4 linked regions of the Homo sapiens genome follow. The protein of the gene in region 4 interacts with the protein of the main gene of each other region in a pairwise test. Each region holds a gene or a part of one and is shown on either strand. Other genes may lie near its edges.

The links.
Region 1: the proteins of TNIP3 (region 4) and PIBF1 interact in a two-hybrid assay, tested with the Homo sapiens proteins (one large-scale study listed by BioGRID).
Region 2: the proteins of TNIP3 (region 4) and NBPF19 interact in a two-hybrid assay, tested with the Homo sapiens proteins (one large-scale study listed by BioGRID).
Region 3: the proteins of TNIP3 (region 4) and ZBTB8A interact in binary tests that used the Homo sapiens proteins (3 or more experiments, as listed by UniProt).

Annotation. Positions count from the first base shown.
Region 1 is NC_000013.11:72,791,798-72,795,737, reverse strand, and holds part of PIBF1 (progesterone-induced-blocking factor 1), read right to left. Parts: intron 3,292-3,940; coding exon 3,191-3,291; intron 380-3,190; coding exon 181-379; intron 1-180.
Region 2 is NC_000001.11:149,551,235-149,555,174, forward strand, and holds part of NBPF19 (NBPF family member NBPF19), read left to right. Parts: intron 1-92; coding exon 93-265; intron 266-974; coding exon 975-1,026; intron 1,027-1,652; coding exon 1,653-1,825; intron 1,826-2,539; coding exon 2,540-2,648; intron 2,649-3,260; coding exon 3,261-3,504; 3' UTR 3,505-3,940.
Region 3 is NC_000001.11:32,594,625-32,598,564, reverse strand, and holds part of ZBTB8A (zinc finger and BTB domain-containing protein 8A), read right to left. Parts: intron 3,512-3,940; coding exon 3,342-3,511; intron 1-3,341. UniProt on the Homo sapiens protein: May be involved in transcriptional regulation.
Region 4 is NC_000004.12:121,161,111-121,165,604, forward strand, and holds the start of TNIP3 (TNFAIP3-interacting protein 3), read right to left. Parts: upstream 3,212-4,494; 5' UTR 3,037-3,211; coding exon of another isoform or gene 3,016-3,036; coding exon 2,950-3,015; intron 107-2,949; coding exon 26-106; intron 1-25. UniProt on the Homo sapiens protein: Binds to zinc finger protein TNFAIP3 and inhibits NF-kappa-B activation induced by tumor necrosis factor, Toll-like receptor 4 (TLR4), interleukin-1 and 12-O-tetradecanoylphorbol-13-acetate.

The sequences.
Region 1 (3,940 bases), on a different chromosome or scaffold from region 4:
GCTTGACTTTGGAGATCAATGGTCATGATCCTTTAAAATTTGGATCTCAACACCATTCACCATCCATAGCCATAAAATAATGTATCAATTGGGTACTTCAAAAGTAATTGCTACTATATAAATGGTAAATTTTAGTCTGAAAATATATGTCATAGTTAAAAATAGATATAAGATACTTACAGATACATATTCAGGAATAGAAAGCTGATCTTCAGGAAAAGCTTTTAATTTAATATATTGCTCTTCTGTCAACTCAAAGTCACGCAGGTTTCGACGAACATCTCCAGCTTTTTCTCTTAGCTGAAGATTTGTCTCTTCTAGTTGTTTCTGTCTCAACAAAATGGTTTCCATTTCTTGTTTCATTAATTCTTGATATTTGCTACATTAGAAGAGAATTTATGGCAGGCTTTAAAAAAGTATTTGAGATCTAATTTTCTCACAGTTTCCTATTTATATCAACATAAAGTTAGGAAATCAGAAACCTGACAGTATTATTTACTTACTCCAGCTAAATACTTATTTACTCATATTAATCAGTTAAATATGAAATGACAATTCCATACTAATTATTAAATGTGTAACCATATAAATTATTAAACAGAGAATTGATATTCTTAAAGAATAATTTTAGAAATTCAAATTATAAAATTATATATTTCTTCTGCTTAAGGTTTAATGTTAAACATCAAGGACTCTACTTATTAAAGTAATTTTCATTTCCCTTTTATCCTGATACTTCAAGGATATCTCTTTAAGATGGTAACACTGAACCACCATAAGGTATTCACTCAACCAATGAGGTAATGAAAACAGTAATCTGCACATACTCATCATTCTCAAAGAATACATGTAGCAGACATTATTGTTAGTTGCCTACTGAAAGATTCTGATCAGGAAGGGACAATCTGATGTTATTAGTCTGCTCTCATGCTACTAATAAAGACATACCCAAGACTGGGTAATTTATAAAGGAAAGAGGTTTACTGGACTCAGACTTCCACATGGCAGGGGAGGCCTCACAATCATGGCGGAAGGCAAAAGAGAAGCAAAGGCATGTCTTACATGGTGGCAGACAAGAGTGCTTGTGCAGGGGAACTCCCATTTATAAAACCATCAGATCTTGTGAGACTTATTCACTATCATGAGAACAGCATGGGAAAGACCACCTCCATGATTCAGTTACCTCCCATCAGGTCCCTCCCATGACATGTAGGAATTATGGGAGCTATAATTCAAGATGAGATTTGGGTGGGGACACAGCCAAATCATATTACTGATTTTCCCCTTCCCTACTATATCAATCCCATTAACAGACACACATGCTGTTATTTCAATCTTACAACAAATGAACAAACAAAACCACAACTCTGGACTTCACTGCACTTCCCCCTTTGTTAGCCACCCCTTTGGAGCAAGCTTGCTCAAAAGTTGTCTATAATTATTGTCTCCAAATCCTTTCCTCTTAAACCCATGGCGATCATATTTTTACTGTCTCCAATGAAATCTCAATGACATCTAAATTGCAAATGATCAATTCTTAGTTCTTTTCCTCCATGATCTAATGATAGAGCTTGACACAAGTCACTTTCTTTCCTTGATACATTTTCATCACCTGGCTTCCAAGACATCATACTGTTCATTTTTCTTCTATTTTACTGTGGTTCCTTCTCAGTCTCCTTTTCTGCTTTGTCTTAATGTTGGAGTACTTGGTCCTCTTCTGTCTGTACGCACTCCTTGGGGAATTCATCTAGTCTCATGACTTGAATACTGTCTATAGCCTAATGATCCCCAGATTTGTACCTCTACACGAGACTTTTCGTATACCTCCACATGGATTTCTAACTAGAAAACTCCAACTTAACATGTCCCAAATTGAACTCAGGCTTTTTACTCACAAAACCTTTGCTACCATGATTTCTTTCTTCTTAGCTGACAGAAATTCCATTTTTTCATTTGTTCAGGCCAAAACTTTTGATGTAATCCTTGACTCCCCTTTTTCTCTTAAGCCCCACATTGAATCCATCAGCCCTCCAAAAAATATTCAGAATCCAACCATTTTTTATGACCATCAGCTATCAAGAGTTTTATTACAATAGACTCGTGACTGCCCTCTCAGCAGCATCATTCAATCTGATATATGTCTTACAGAATTAGCATAGAAGACCTATTATCAAATGCAGTGGTTCTCAAAGTATTGTTTCTGGACCAGCAGCATCTGCATCACCTGCGAACCCAGTAAAAATGCACATTCTCAGGACCCCACCCCCACAAGTCAGAAACTCTGAGGGTGGGATCCAGTAGGCTTCTTTAACAAGCCCTTCAACTGTTCCTGATACATGCTAAAGTTTGAGGTCCACTAATCTAGTGTGATAGTGGCTGATAAAAAGGTCCGATAATTTTTTACAATATCAGTTAAGTAGTAAAATCTTAAAAAGGGAAAATTTACCTGTTTTACACTTTTACCTGTAATTAAAACATAGAACTAAACATTCACATTTTTATATAGGATCCAGATATTTTGAATACAGAGGTATGATTTGATTTTGTGTAAATCATCATGTATGATTTCCAAGTTCAATTTCTTTACAATGGCATGAGATCCTAAAAGACATTTAGGAAGAAACCAATGAAGGTATCTTATATGGATTTCATGTTTGCCCTCAATCTTTAAACTTGTGTTGCTTATATTTAATTTCATAATTTTTTTAGTTCCTTTTATTGAATCGTTCCAAAGAATTTATTTCATTGTTTGTATTATTTTTAATTAAGTTACATAAGTATAATTGCCATAGGCATATTTAAGCATGATAAGCCCACAACTGAGCTAGAGAAAGTACACAGGAATAATAGAAAGTACTTCAGGCCAGGAAAGTCCAATGGGTCATGAGAATCAATCAATATGTTGCGTAAAAGAAGAAAGGTTAATGGTGGTCAGTTTAGAGAGCTTCCTTTATCATATATGGTTTACACTGACCAATGTTTGTTGAATGAATGTTGAATTTTGACTTTCTGTATTTTATGTACCATATCAAGTATCCTACTTTTTTTGTGGTCTAGGTGTAAAAATTATTGCTATCTCTGACTTAAAATTTCTCTATTTTAGCTTACAGTCACAAACATGAACAGGCAATAAAATTACTTTTAATTGCTAAATAGATGTTGTTTTTTTTTTAAAAAAAACTTTTCTTACCTGGCATCTTTCTGTTGAAAAGCCAATTGGTTGTCTAATCTCAATGTTAGTAGCTGCTTCTGGTGAAGTGCATCATTAAGTTTCTCCTCCAATTCTTCAATCTTCGTAAAGAGAAAAAGATAAATTATATGATTTGTCATAAAGAAAAACTTTCAGTTTCATAATAAACATATTTTAAAAACACTTGAAAGAAACAGGCTAAAAATGGATAGAGGGACCAGGCACAGGGGCTCACGCCTATAATTCCAGCACTTTGGAAGGCCAAGTGCTGTTGCCCAGGCTAGAGTGCAGTGGCGCAACCTTGGCTCACTGCCACCTCCTCCTGCCAGGTTCAAGTGATTCTACTGCCCCAGCCTCCTGAGTAGCTGGGATTACAGCCAAGTGCCACCACACCCGGTTAATTTTTGTATTTTTAGTAGAGACAGGGTTTCACCATGTTGGTCAGGGTGTTCTTGAACTCCTGACCTCAAGTGATCAGTCCACCTTGCCCTCCCAAAATGCTGGGATTACAGGCATGAGCCACCGCGCCTGGCCTCCTGCCTCCAGTTTTGCCAACCTCCAAATTTATATTCCTCTATCTTACCTTTAAAAAATGCTATCAAAAATTTATTTTCAGCTGGGTGCGGTGGCTCACGCCTGTAATCCCAGCACTTTGGGAGGCCGAGGCGGGCAGACAACTTGAGGTCGGGAGTTCAAGATAAGCCTGGCCAGCATGGTGAAACTCCATCTTTACTAAAAAATACAAAAATT
Region 2 (3,940 bases), on a different chromosome or scaffold from region 4:
AACAGTTCCTTATGTTAGCCATGAAATCTAGCTGGGGCTGTGTGGTTTCTGATTCCCCCTGGCTTATTCTTTACTTTTTCCTACTTTTCCAGGCTCAGCAGGGAGCTGCTGGCTGAGAAAGAGCCTGAAGTCTTGCAGGACCCACTGGATAGATGTTATTCGACTCCTTCAGGTTATCTTGAACTGCCTGACTTAGGCCAGCCCTACAGCAGTGCTGTTTACTCATTGGAGGAACAGTACCTTGGCTTGGCTCTTGACGTGGACAGTGAGTACCTTACTATGAAGGTGATAAGCCTCCACCTGGTCTTCCAGATAGGGGTGATATTCCTGTTCCAAGTGGCCCTTACTGACCCGAGAGATGTCATTGCCGCAGGCAGGACCTATGGGCGCATATAGGTTGTAATGAAACTGTAGTCTCAGTTGGAAGCCTAGACATGAAATGGGTCAGTGAGCAAGGCTCTATTCCTAGTCTCCAGCCATGCCTGTGGCAACCTGAGCCCGCTCTCAGCACATTGGACCCAGGCAGATGTAAAAAATTCACAGAACTATGATTTGGACTCAAGGGTTTGTAGATTTCCTCCTTCATTCTAATTTCAGTGTCTAAAATTCTTACATCCATGAACGAGCTGGGCATTTGATGAGACAGGGCTGAATACTGCAGTTTTCCTCCTAGAAATCATCTGGGGCATTTTCTTTGAACTGATGGGAACAATAAGGCATAACTGTTTGCACAAACTTGGGATAAGTGATTTTGGGATAACGATCTTCCAGAATGGGGATATTTCACCCTTGGTTCTGAGATGCAAACCAAAGAATATCATGACCAGCTTTCAGGCCTCCTGAAGTATATCTCTCACATTGTCCTGTTCTCATGCTGAGGAGCCTGAGATCCCTGTGTGGGGATTAGACAGTGGACTGTTATGGGTGTAGGTGAATTGGCTTATTTTGTCTGTCCCTGTCTGAATGTATTGCAGGAATTAAAAAGGACCAAGAAGAGGAAGAAGACCAAGGCCCACCATGCCCCAGGTAACTGAGCAATTGTGAACAGCTACTTCTGTGTTGACATCTGGAGACTCCTGGTTCAGGGAAAACAGAGCGGGCTGACATTATCGATTACATCTTTTCAAGCAAGCCTGAATTATTCCTACTAACATTGCTGTTGGTTTTCATTGCAGTAGATATTTAGGTTTCCATTTCTTCCTCCCCTTATCATTTACTAACCTACTGTAGGTGGACCAGACTTCAAAAACTGTATTCTCATGGCGACTGCATGGAAACTTGAACACATTTTATGGAAAATTATTGAGCACAGTCTTTTCATGATCACTGTATGCTGTGTGTCCTGAGGGCACTAACTCAGAGTGTCCTGTTACTCCCTCATCAGTGTGTCACCTGGACAATTCACTGAGCTCGTTCTCTCTCTCTCTGTGTGTGTGTCTGTGTGTGTGTGTGTGTCTATCTGTCTTTCTCTTTCATTCTTTTCCATTTGGCCCTGTTCTGTCCCAACATGAAGGCAATAATTTGTTACCTCATTAATGGATCTATCCTTTTACTTTCTTAACCACTTCCTTATGCTACCCATGAAACCTAGTTGGGGCTCTGTTGTGTGTGATTTCCCCTGGCTTATTCTTTACTTTTTCCTCCTTTTCCAGGCTCAGCAGGGAGCTGCTGGAGGTAGTAGAGCCTGAAGTCTTGCAGGACTCACTGGATAGATGTTATTCAACTCCTTCCAGTTGTCTTGAACAGCCTGACTCCTGCCAGCCCTATGGAAGTTCCTTTTATGCATTGGAGGAAAAACATGTTGGCTTTTCTCTTGACGTGGGAGGTGAGTACCTTTCTATGAAGGTGATAAGCATCCACTGAGTCTTCCATATAAAGATCATATTCCTGCTCCAAGTGGCCATTACTGAGCTGAGAGATGTCATTGCCGCAGTGAGGACCTATAGGCACATGTAGGTTGAATGAAACTCTAGTTCTACCTGGAAGCCCAGACATGGGATGGGTCAGTGAGCATGGCTCTCTTCCTAGTCTCAGGCCATACCTGTGGCACTCTGATTCTACTCTCATGACATTGGACCTGGGCAGATGTGACAAATTCAGAGAACTATGATTTTGACTCAAGGGTTTGTAGATTTCCTTTTTCACTCTAATTTCAGTGTCTAAAGTCCTCACAACCATGAACAATCTGAGTATTTGATGAGACAGGGCTAAATATTGCAGTTTTTCTCCCAGAAATCATTTGAGGGTATTTGCTTTAAATTGATTGGAAAAATATGGCATAACTGTTTGCACAAACTTGGGACAAATGATATTGGGATAACGATCTACTAGAATAGGGACATTTTACCCACAGTTTCTGGGAGAAAAACCGAGGAATTTCTATCATGACCAGCCTTCAGGCCTCCTGAAATATATCTCTCACAGTGTCCTATTCTTATGCTGAGGAGCCTGAGGTCCCTGTGTGAGGATTAGACAGTGGATTGTTATGTGTGTAGGGGAATCAGCTTAATGTGTCTGTCCATGTCTGAATTTATTGCAGAAATTGAAAAGAAGGGGAAGGGGAAGAAAAGAAGGGGAAGAAGATCAAAGAAGGAAAGAAGAAGGGGAAGAAAAGAAGGGGAAGAAGATCAAAACCCACCATGCCCCAGGTGACTTTCAGCAATTGTGGATGCTTAATTCTGTGTTAACACCTGGAGGCAACAGATTCAGGGAAACCAGAGTGTGTTTGATGTCATGTTTTCAACGAAGGCTGAATTACTCCTACTGTCATTGCTGTTGGTTTTCATTGCAGTAGATGTTTAGGTTTCCATTTCTTCCTCCCCTTATCATTTACTAGCGTACCATAGGTTGACCATACTTCAAAAGCTGTACTCTCATGGCCACTGCATCGAATTTTGAGCATATTTTATGGAAAACTATTGAGCTCACTCTTTTCATGATCACAGTTTGCTGTGTGTCATGAGGGCACTAACTCAGAGTGTCCTTTTACTCCCTTACCAGTATGTCACCTGGCCAATTCACTAGGTCACTTTCTCTCTGTCTCTGTCTCTGTCTCTCTCTCTCTGTCTTTCTCTTTCATTGTTTTCTACCTGGCCCTGTTCTATCCCAACATAAAGGCAATAAATTTTTTTTTTTACCTCATTAATGGATCTATCCTTTTTCTTTTCTAACCACTTCCTTATGTGACTTCTGAAATCTAGTGGGGCTCTGTGGTGTCTGATTTTCCCTGGCTGCTTCTTTAGTTTTGTCTCCTTTTCCAGGCTCAACAGCGTGCTGATGGAAGTGGAAGAGCCTGAAGTCTTACAGGACTCACTGGATGGATGTTATTCGACTCCGTCAATGTACTTTGAACTACCTGACTCATTCCAGCACTACAGAAGTGTGTTTTACTCATTTGAGGAAGAGCATATCAGCTTCGCCCTTTACTTGGACAATAGGTTTTTTACTTTGACGGTGACAAGTCTCCATCTGGTGTTCCAGATGTTAGTCATATTCCCACAATAGGCAGCCCTTACTAAGCCGAGAGATGTCATTCCTGCAGGCAGGACCTATAGGCACGTGAAGATTTGAATGAAACTACAGTTCCATTTGGAAGCCCAGACATAGGATGGGTCAGTGGGCATGGCTCTTTTCCTATTCTCAAACCATGCCAGTGGCAACCTGTGCTCAGTCTGAAGACAATGGACCCACGTTAGGTGTGACACGTTCACATAACTGTGCAGCACATGCCGGGAGTGATCAGTCGGACATTTTAATTTGAACCACGTATCTTTGGGTAGCTACAAAATTCCTCAGGGATTTCATTTTGCAGGCATGTCTCTGAGCTTCTATACCTGCTCAAGGTCAGTGTCATCTTTGTGTTTAGCTCATCCAAAGGTGTTACCCTGGTTTCAATGAACCTAACCTCATTCTTTGTGTCTTCAGTGTTGGCTTGTTTTAG
Region 3 (3,940 bases), on a different chromosome or scaffold from region 4:
GCACCAAACACAGTAAAAAACTCCAAGAAGCTGGGCACTGTGGCTCACACCTGTAATCCCAGCACTTTGGAAGGCTGAGGTGAGTGGATCACTTGAGGTCAGCAGTTTGAGATCAGCCTGGCCAATATGGTAAAACTCCATCTTTACTAAAAAAAAATACAAAACTTAGCTGGGCATGGTGGCACACGCCTGTAATCCCAGCTACACGGGAGGCTGAGGCAGGAGAATCACTTGAGCCCGGGAGGCGGAGGTTGCAGTGAGCTGAGATTGTGCCACTGCACTCCAGCTTAGATGACACAGTGAGACTTCATCTCAAAAAAAAAAAAAAAAAAAAAAAAAAATCCAAGAAAGCTAATACAGTCTGGTAAAATATGTAGGAAAATGTATGGAATTACCACTAGTACAGTTATTATCCTGTGTGTAACTGTTGACATATTAATCAGTAAACATTAAAAGTACATGATTTGAATGAATTCTGATTTCTCCTGAGATAGTAATATTATGCGTATTAGGCTGGGCGTAGTAGCTCACATCTGTAATCCCAGCACTTTGGGAAGTGGAGGTGGGTGGATCACTTGAGGCCAGGAGTTCAAGACCAGCCTGGCCAACATGGTGAAACCCCATCTCTACTAAAAATACAAAAAAAAAAAAAAAAATTAGCCGGATATGTGCTTGTAATCCCAGCTACTCGGGAGGCCAAGGCAGGAGAATCACTTGAACCCAGCAGGTGGAGGTTGTGGTAAGCTGAGATCGTGCCACTGCACTCCAGCCTGGATGACAGAACGAGACTCTGTCTCAAAAAACAAACAAACAAACAAACAAAACTATGGGTATCAAATGTGGTATTGTTTTTGTTACAAGCTCTGATACAGATTCATGTCCATCCCTCCAAAATATGTATCTTCTAACTCTATCCACTGAAATAGTGTAAAAGAAATGACACCTCCGTAACAATGACTGCCCAGACTTTGGGCTCTAATTTCACTTTCCACTAAAGGAAATGGATTGAGAAATGGCTGATTCCAGCTCTGTGGTAGGGAAAGTACAAAGTGAGTCTAGGCCTCTTTTGGAGCCAGAGAACAAGGACACTTTCAAAATTTAATGGAGTTGTGACAAAAGGAGACAAGAGCCAGCATCAAGGTAGAGACTGTTCACTGGATAAAACTAAAAATTTGAGTGTCAAAAGGAATAATAATTGTGGATCCAAACATAATAAACCAATACAATTCCTCAAATTCCTGAGACCATATGATATCTAAAAATATAAGACCAGCAGACGTGGTGGCTCACGCCTGTAATCCCAGTACTTTGGGAGGCCGAGGTGGATGGATCACTTGAGGTCAGGAATTCAAGACCAGCCTGGCCAACATGGTGAAACCCCATCTCTACTAAAAATACAAAAACTAGGTGGGCACCTGTAGTCCCAGCTACTCGGGAGGCTGAGACAGGAGAATTGTTTGAACCTGGGAGGCAGAGGTTGCAGTGGGGCAAGATCACGCCATTACACTCCAGCCTGGGCAACAGAGCGAGACTCTGTCTCAAAAAAAAAAAGAAAAAAGAAAGCAGGTGTAGTGGAGACCTCCTTTGGTTGGACAGCCGCAACTAGACTGAAATCCTACCAGACAAGGATTCAGTAATCACTGGTAGATGCTGAGTATCTACAGTGGTGATTCTGACCTAGACACTTAAAGCATTTATACAGTTTATATTATCTTTGGCTCTGAACAGACCAGTATATAAAAACATATTAGACTAAGTGAATTAAAATGGAAATATAAAACTATTTACCATCAAAAGAATATACCCCACTTCAAGGTCTTGAAGGAGATTAAAAATCAATATACATAATTATGCTTTACGTGCAAAGTAAAAACACTAAGTTGGAAGAATTTTAAATATGGTAGAGTTGTGTGAAAACATTTCCCTCAGCAAATGAGATGATCCTAAAGCCCATAAATGTATTTTTTTTGTTTGTTTTTTGTTTTAGACAGTGTCTCACTCTGTCATTCAGGCTGGAGTGCAGTGGCGCGATCTCAGCTCACTGTAACCTCCACTTCCTGGGTTTGGGCAATTCTCGTGCCTCAGCCTCCTGAGTAGCTGGGATTATAGGTGTGCGCTACCATGCCAGCTAATTTTTGTATTTTTGGTGGATGGGGTTTCACCATGTTAGCCAGGCTGGTCTTTTTTTTTTTTTTGAGATGGAGTCTCGCTCAGTCGCCCAGGCTGGAGTGCAGTGATGCAATCTCGGCTCACTGCAAGCTCCGCCTCCCAGGTTCACACCATTCTCCTGCCTCAGCCTCCTGAGTAGCTGGGATTGCAGGCGCCCGCCACCACGCCTGGCTAATTTTTTTGTATTTTTAGTAGAGACGGGGTTTCACCATGTTAGCCAGGATGGTCTCGATCTCCTGACCTCATGATCCGCCTGCCTCGGCCTCCCAAAGTGCTGGGATTACAGGCGTGAGCCACCGCGCCCAGCCAACCAGGCTGGTCTTGAACTGAACTGGCCTCAAGCAATCTGCCCGCCTTGGCCTCCCGAAGTGCTGGGATTACGTGTGTGAGCCACTGTGCCTGGCCAACTGTACATATTTCTTAAGAAGTAAAATGATGGGCCAGGTACTGTGGCTCACGCCTGTAACCCCAGCATTTTGGGAGGCTGAGGCAGGTGGATCACTTGACCCCAGGAGTTCAAGACCAGCCTGGGCAACATGATGAAACCCCATCTCTACAAAAAATATAAAAATACAAAAATTAGCCTGGCATGTTGGTGCAGGCCTGTAGTCCCAGCTACTCAGGAGGCTGAGGCGGGAGGATAATTTGAGCCTGAGAAGTCGCGGCTGCAGTGAGCTGAGATGGCACCACTGCACTCCAGCTTGGGCGATAGAGAGAGACCCTGTCTCAAAAAAAAAAACAAAAGCTGCAGTGAGCTGAGATGGCACCACTGCACTCCAGCTTGGGCGATAGAGAGAGACCCTGTCTCAAAAAAAAAAAACAAAACAAGGCCGGGCGTGGTGGCTCATGCCTGTAATCCCAGCACTTTTGGGAGGCTGAGGCAGGTGAATCACCTGAGGTTGGGTGTTTGAGACCAGCCAGGCCAATGTGGTGAAACCCCATCTCTACTAAAAATACAAAAATTAGCCAGGCGTGGTGGCACACACCTGTATCCCAACTACTTGGGAGGCTGAGGCAGGAGAATTGCTTGAACCCGGGAGGCAGAGGTTGCAGCGAGCTGAGATTACACCATTGTACTCCAGCCTGGCAACAAGAGTGAAACTCCATCTCAAAAAAACAAAAACAAAAACCAAAAAAGAATTAGTAAAACGATGAAAAAAAATCATACATACTGTTCGAAAATGGCTACTTAGATGGTCTAGCCTGCTAAATCTTTTTCCACAAGCTTGACATGGATAGGGCCTTTCTCCTGTATGACAACGAAGGTGGCGCTTTAGGTCTGCCTTCCGCTTCACCACATGTGTGCAGTACGGGCACTTGAATCGCATCCGAGGCAGATCATCTGTCAAGAGACGCTTTGATTAAATCACTGGAAAGTTCATAACAATTCTAATAACAGAAAGAATCCAATCCAAGCCCAATGGAAACAAGGAAAGAAAAAAATAAACTTAAAAAAAAAGAAATAAAAAGAATTCACAAGGAGTTGGTTAGCCCAAAAAGTAAGAGACGAAAGAAATTTTATTAAGACTAGATTGTCAATGTAATCCTAAGTATGGAACTTTAACTTCGGTATTTGATATATTTAGAAAGTTGGGTAAATTCAGACTGCTATGCTTTTTTTTTTTTTTTTGAGATAGAGTTTCGCTCTGTTGCCCAGGCTGGAGTGCAATGGCGCAATCTCCACTCACTGCAACCTCTGCCTCCTGGGTTCTCCTGAAGCGATTCTTCTGCCTCAGGCTCCTGAGTAGCTGGGATTACAGACATGCGCCAG
Region 4 (4,494 bases):
GCTTTAGCGAATATTTCTAAGTTACCTCTTTTCTTTGTTTTTCCAAACACCTTATCTTTTGTTCAAGAGAATTCATCAAGTTCTTTCTTGTTGATGGTTCAGCACACTTAGAAAAAAAAAAAGAGAGAAGATTGAAACAAAGCTGTTTACAAAATAAACAGAAGTACTGTTCCTCAGAAACCCCATGCATTTGGCCAACTCTCCTGTTGCGATTTAAAAAATACCTGATTCTAGCAGTAATAATCCTCATACCCTAAGTCCTTCATCATGGCTGGTGGATGAGTCAGCTTCATATTATGTTTTAGAATGCTTTACATAAATTAGTTACCAATATAATTCTTTAATAAATTATAAATATATCTGTATACTATAACGGGTAAGTCAGAGATTAAAATTTTATGAATTTGGATTTCAATCCTTTTCCAAAAAAATGACAATTCAGAAATCAGGTAAGTTTCATGGATATATTTTAGGTATTTTTATAGTAAACATTTCATAAAAGTCATTTTGGTAGCTGTGCCCATGAACATGTATGTGAGTAATATTCTGAAAAGTAGACCCAGTAAACGTCAGAGGAACGACAAAATCATCGAGAAAAAGACAAACACATACAGCCATTACTGTGTAATTACTGTGTAATTTTAGCCAGCTCTTTGAATAAAGTCACTAGGTTACTAGTTTAGATTAATAATAAATTACTGGCATAATGAAAATTTACCACCTTTCTTTTCAGTTATTTTTTTCAGGAGTGAGAGTATTCATTTAAAGATAACACAAAAGCTGTGGAAGCTGTCTGCCATCTGCCTAAATCGACTAAGAACAATATTTACTTAAATAAAGGACTGGATCCTCTATAATAATTCAATAGTCTTATTACTATCTCATCTCAGAGTCATATAAGTAATACAATTTATTGGATGATGAGAGTAATTCCTACATCTGTAATCTGTTTCAGGCTTAATAGTTACTGTGGATCACTAAGTTGCTTAAAGCTATTTGTGAACCATTAAGAAATATTTTCAAAACATGTTGTTGGTCTTTGCCAGAAATGTGTACAGGAAATTGTTCTTTGCAATCATCATGGGATTTCAAGCACCTTTTTTCATCAGAAATTATTTATAAAACTGTATTTTCTATCTTTTCTCTGTTTGTTTATGTTTCAGCATTTTAGGGTTTGATGGTATTTTAAGTAAGCAGAGATGTTCTCGTTTCCTTAGCTTCTTCCTATTTAGACCTATGTTACAATTAAGACCACATTTAAAAAGAGACAGTCTTCTGTGGGTCAATAAATTCTGAATGATTATATTTGCTCTTGACCTCAAGAAGGTGTTCTGGCTGAGCACCAAGAGTGACACTGAAACCCAAGTGTCAAGTATGTTGGGGCCCGTAATTGGACCTTCTTCTTTTGGGGAAGACTTCCAAGAAACTGGACCCATTCTGGGTTAGAACAGACTAACTATTAAGCATCTTTGATCTGGAAAATGCTGTGAGCCAACCCTACTTAGTGTATCTTGAGGTCATCAGCAAAGTAGGGGCACAGTAAGACTGGATTTTAGAATGGTGGTTCCCACCACAAGAGCACATCAAAGTCACCGTTAAGCTTGCTAAACATAGAGCATCCTGAACAATGGATCAGAATTTCTAGAAGAGCAGCCAGGGCACCTCTATTTCTAATACATTTCCTAGGTAATTTTGATTCATACTAAAGTTCAATATATTCCCATTCTAGGGAATAAATTATGGGTCCTCAAAAATGTCTCCTCTCTGTTTGTGATGTAGACAAAAATCCGTGATTGGCAAACATTTGTATGTCCCTGCCTTTGGGAGCCCAGATGTGGAACAATGAGACAGTGTGCTTTTTGTTTGTTTCCCCATAAACAATTTTCTCTGGAAGAAAATTATAATACATTTCACCCTTGATTTTTCTTTAATAAATAAAAATTACTGAAAATCTAGATACCAAATCTGCAAGAGGCTCTATTTGTAACTGCACGAGTACTAGTTTTTGAAATTCATAAGTAATATTCAGTTATAGGTGGGGGAGGATAGGAGGGAGGAAAAATAGAAAACATAGTGACTAGGAATGGCATGTAAGTCACAAATGTATCACCAAAGCTTTCTCTGGAGATTAATCAACATTTTGTTATAGTTCATATGTCTCAGGTTTCTATAAAATAAAGCGAAATTAATCAAATACAAAGGTTTGGGGGACCTTTTCAATTTGTATTTACTTTGCTTTACAGTTGCTAATGAAGGCATCTGATTTGCAGTAACTACAAAGATTTTCAGTCATTGATTCTAGCAAGGGCTGCTTACGGAACAGTTATTCCCTATACATAATTTCCTATAATTATTCCCTATAAAGTAGAATTTCTGTTCAAAGCATCTGGGCACTTCTTTCTCTATGATAACATCCTTACCAATGTATATTCAAGGTCTGATGCTACTAAATTAAAAACTTAAATGAATAGAAGTTTCCATTTAGTTTCCCATTATACCTTGGTTATCTGTAAAAGAAAACTAGAAAATATTTGAATTCATTCATTCAATTAGCAGTAGTCTCTGTTGCTGAACAAAATCTATGGTACCAATTGTAAATATATAAAAATATTACTACAGATACTCTATTGTTACAATATGTTCTATTTCTACCTACACCAATATAGTATTCTTTTAAGATTTTTATAGAACAAAAATCAAGAACAAAATAAGGAACCCACAGAACTGGAAGGCTGAAAGGAATTTAAGCCCCGTGGGTTAAAAGCAATGTACTGGTTACTTAGATATTTTTTTCTATGTTACATAATTTTGGTTAAAAATATAGAGCAAATCTTAGCTAAAGAAAGCAAACTAGCCATTTCTGTTCTTATTAATAAGTGCACAATTAACCACTAGAAATGCCATCAATGCTAGATGTGATCAACTCATCTCCTAGAAATATGTTCTTACCTCTTTATGCTCCGTAGAACTTTCTGCGGCAATCATTCTAGATGTGCCCTGTACAAAATGTGCCATGGAAGCTGTTTTTCCTGGAGTCTTGGAAAGCAGAAAGAAAAACAGGGGAAAAGTCTCTTAAGGTATATTTTAGGGTGAGAGCAAGTATACAAAATTTAAAAAACACACATCACCGTTAACTCATAATAGAAAATAACAGCAATAGGTTTTCATTAAAAATGAACAGAAGTGACTGTGGATAGGAATTACACAGAATAAAGTTATAAGCACTGCAACTGGGATTTTAACTTTTCTTCTCTTCCAAATAGGGATTTCCCAGGATGTCTCAAATAGGCAGGCCGTGACTAAGACCTGGGGCAGATTAGCCTTGCTATAGTATGTAAATCGTCATTCTTCCTTTACTGGCAGTTTCTCCCACTGGAGGAGGAAGTTCTCCACCACAGAAAGCCTGGGCAATCCAAGTGTTTCCTCAGTAGCCTAACTGTTATAAATTCATTGTATTTCCCAGAGCAATTAGGTAACTGTTGACTTTTTGACAGCTCGGTTTCCCTAAAGGCGAGATTTTCTGGCAATACCTTCTAAATGTGAGTGTAGCTTGGTAGAACTTAATGAGTCATACATAATTCATAATACATAATAATATAAGTGCCACTAATTCTTATAGAAATAAAAGGGAAAATAATTCATTGTAAAGAAAATGGGCATTGTTTGCAAATCTAATCTTCTATATTGGCAGAAAGGTTAAACTTGTCTCAAGTTTAAGTCTGTCTTTTCTATAAATCAAGTCCAGATTGTCTCCATGACTCATTTGAAGTGAAATCTTCTCATGGAGAATCATTTTCACTTTAATTATTTGACTGTTATCATTTTAGGAGCCTTGAGGTAATGGAGCACTACTGGGTAGTACAGATAAAAGCGTGGAAATGGCAGATACTTGGAGCTGCATAAGTGAACTGCGATGGAACAGAAGACCTCATTTTGGACTTGGAACAAAAGGAAAGAGGCAAGGAATACAAAAAAGGAAAGAATGTGTAACTAAAAAGAGAAAAGAATTTATGGTCAATCATTTAACTTCATTAACCTGCCTACGAGATATTCACATATATATAGGATAAAGCCTAAAACTCCTAAAATTCAAAAGAGAGTGATTGAGTGTCCCACATTTGGCCCTCCCATTTCTCCTGAATATCTCCCCCTACTCTCCAACTCTCCCCTGTGCTCCAACCATCCTGACTGACCTCCCTTTCCTGAAATGAGTGAGATGGTTCTACGCCCCTGAGCTCTGTGCATGCTGTTCTTGCCACCTCAGATGTCTCCTCTCTGGGCCCTCCATCCAACCTTATGACGGGGAAAACCTAAGTCAATGCCTCTCTTTCCTTCTGATCTTCTCTTGACTTCCTCTAATCAGCTAAGGAGAGCACTTCATCATGCATTACGATTACATATTTCCATGTTCTTGTGTTAATCTCTGTGTCCACGCACCCAGGCACTGAGCTGTCTGGCACACAGCAGGCATTCAACACATTTTGCTACATGAAT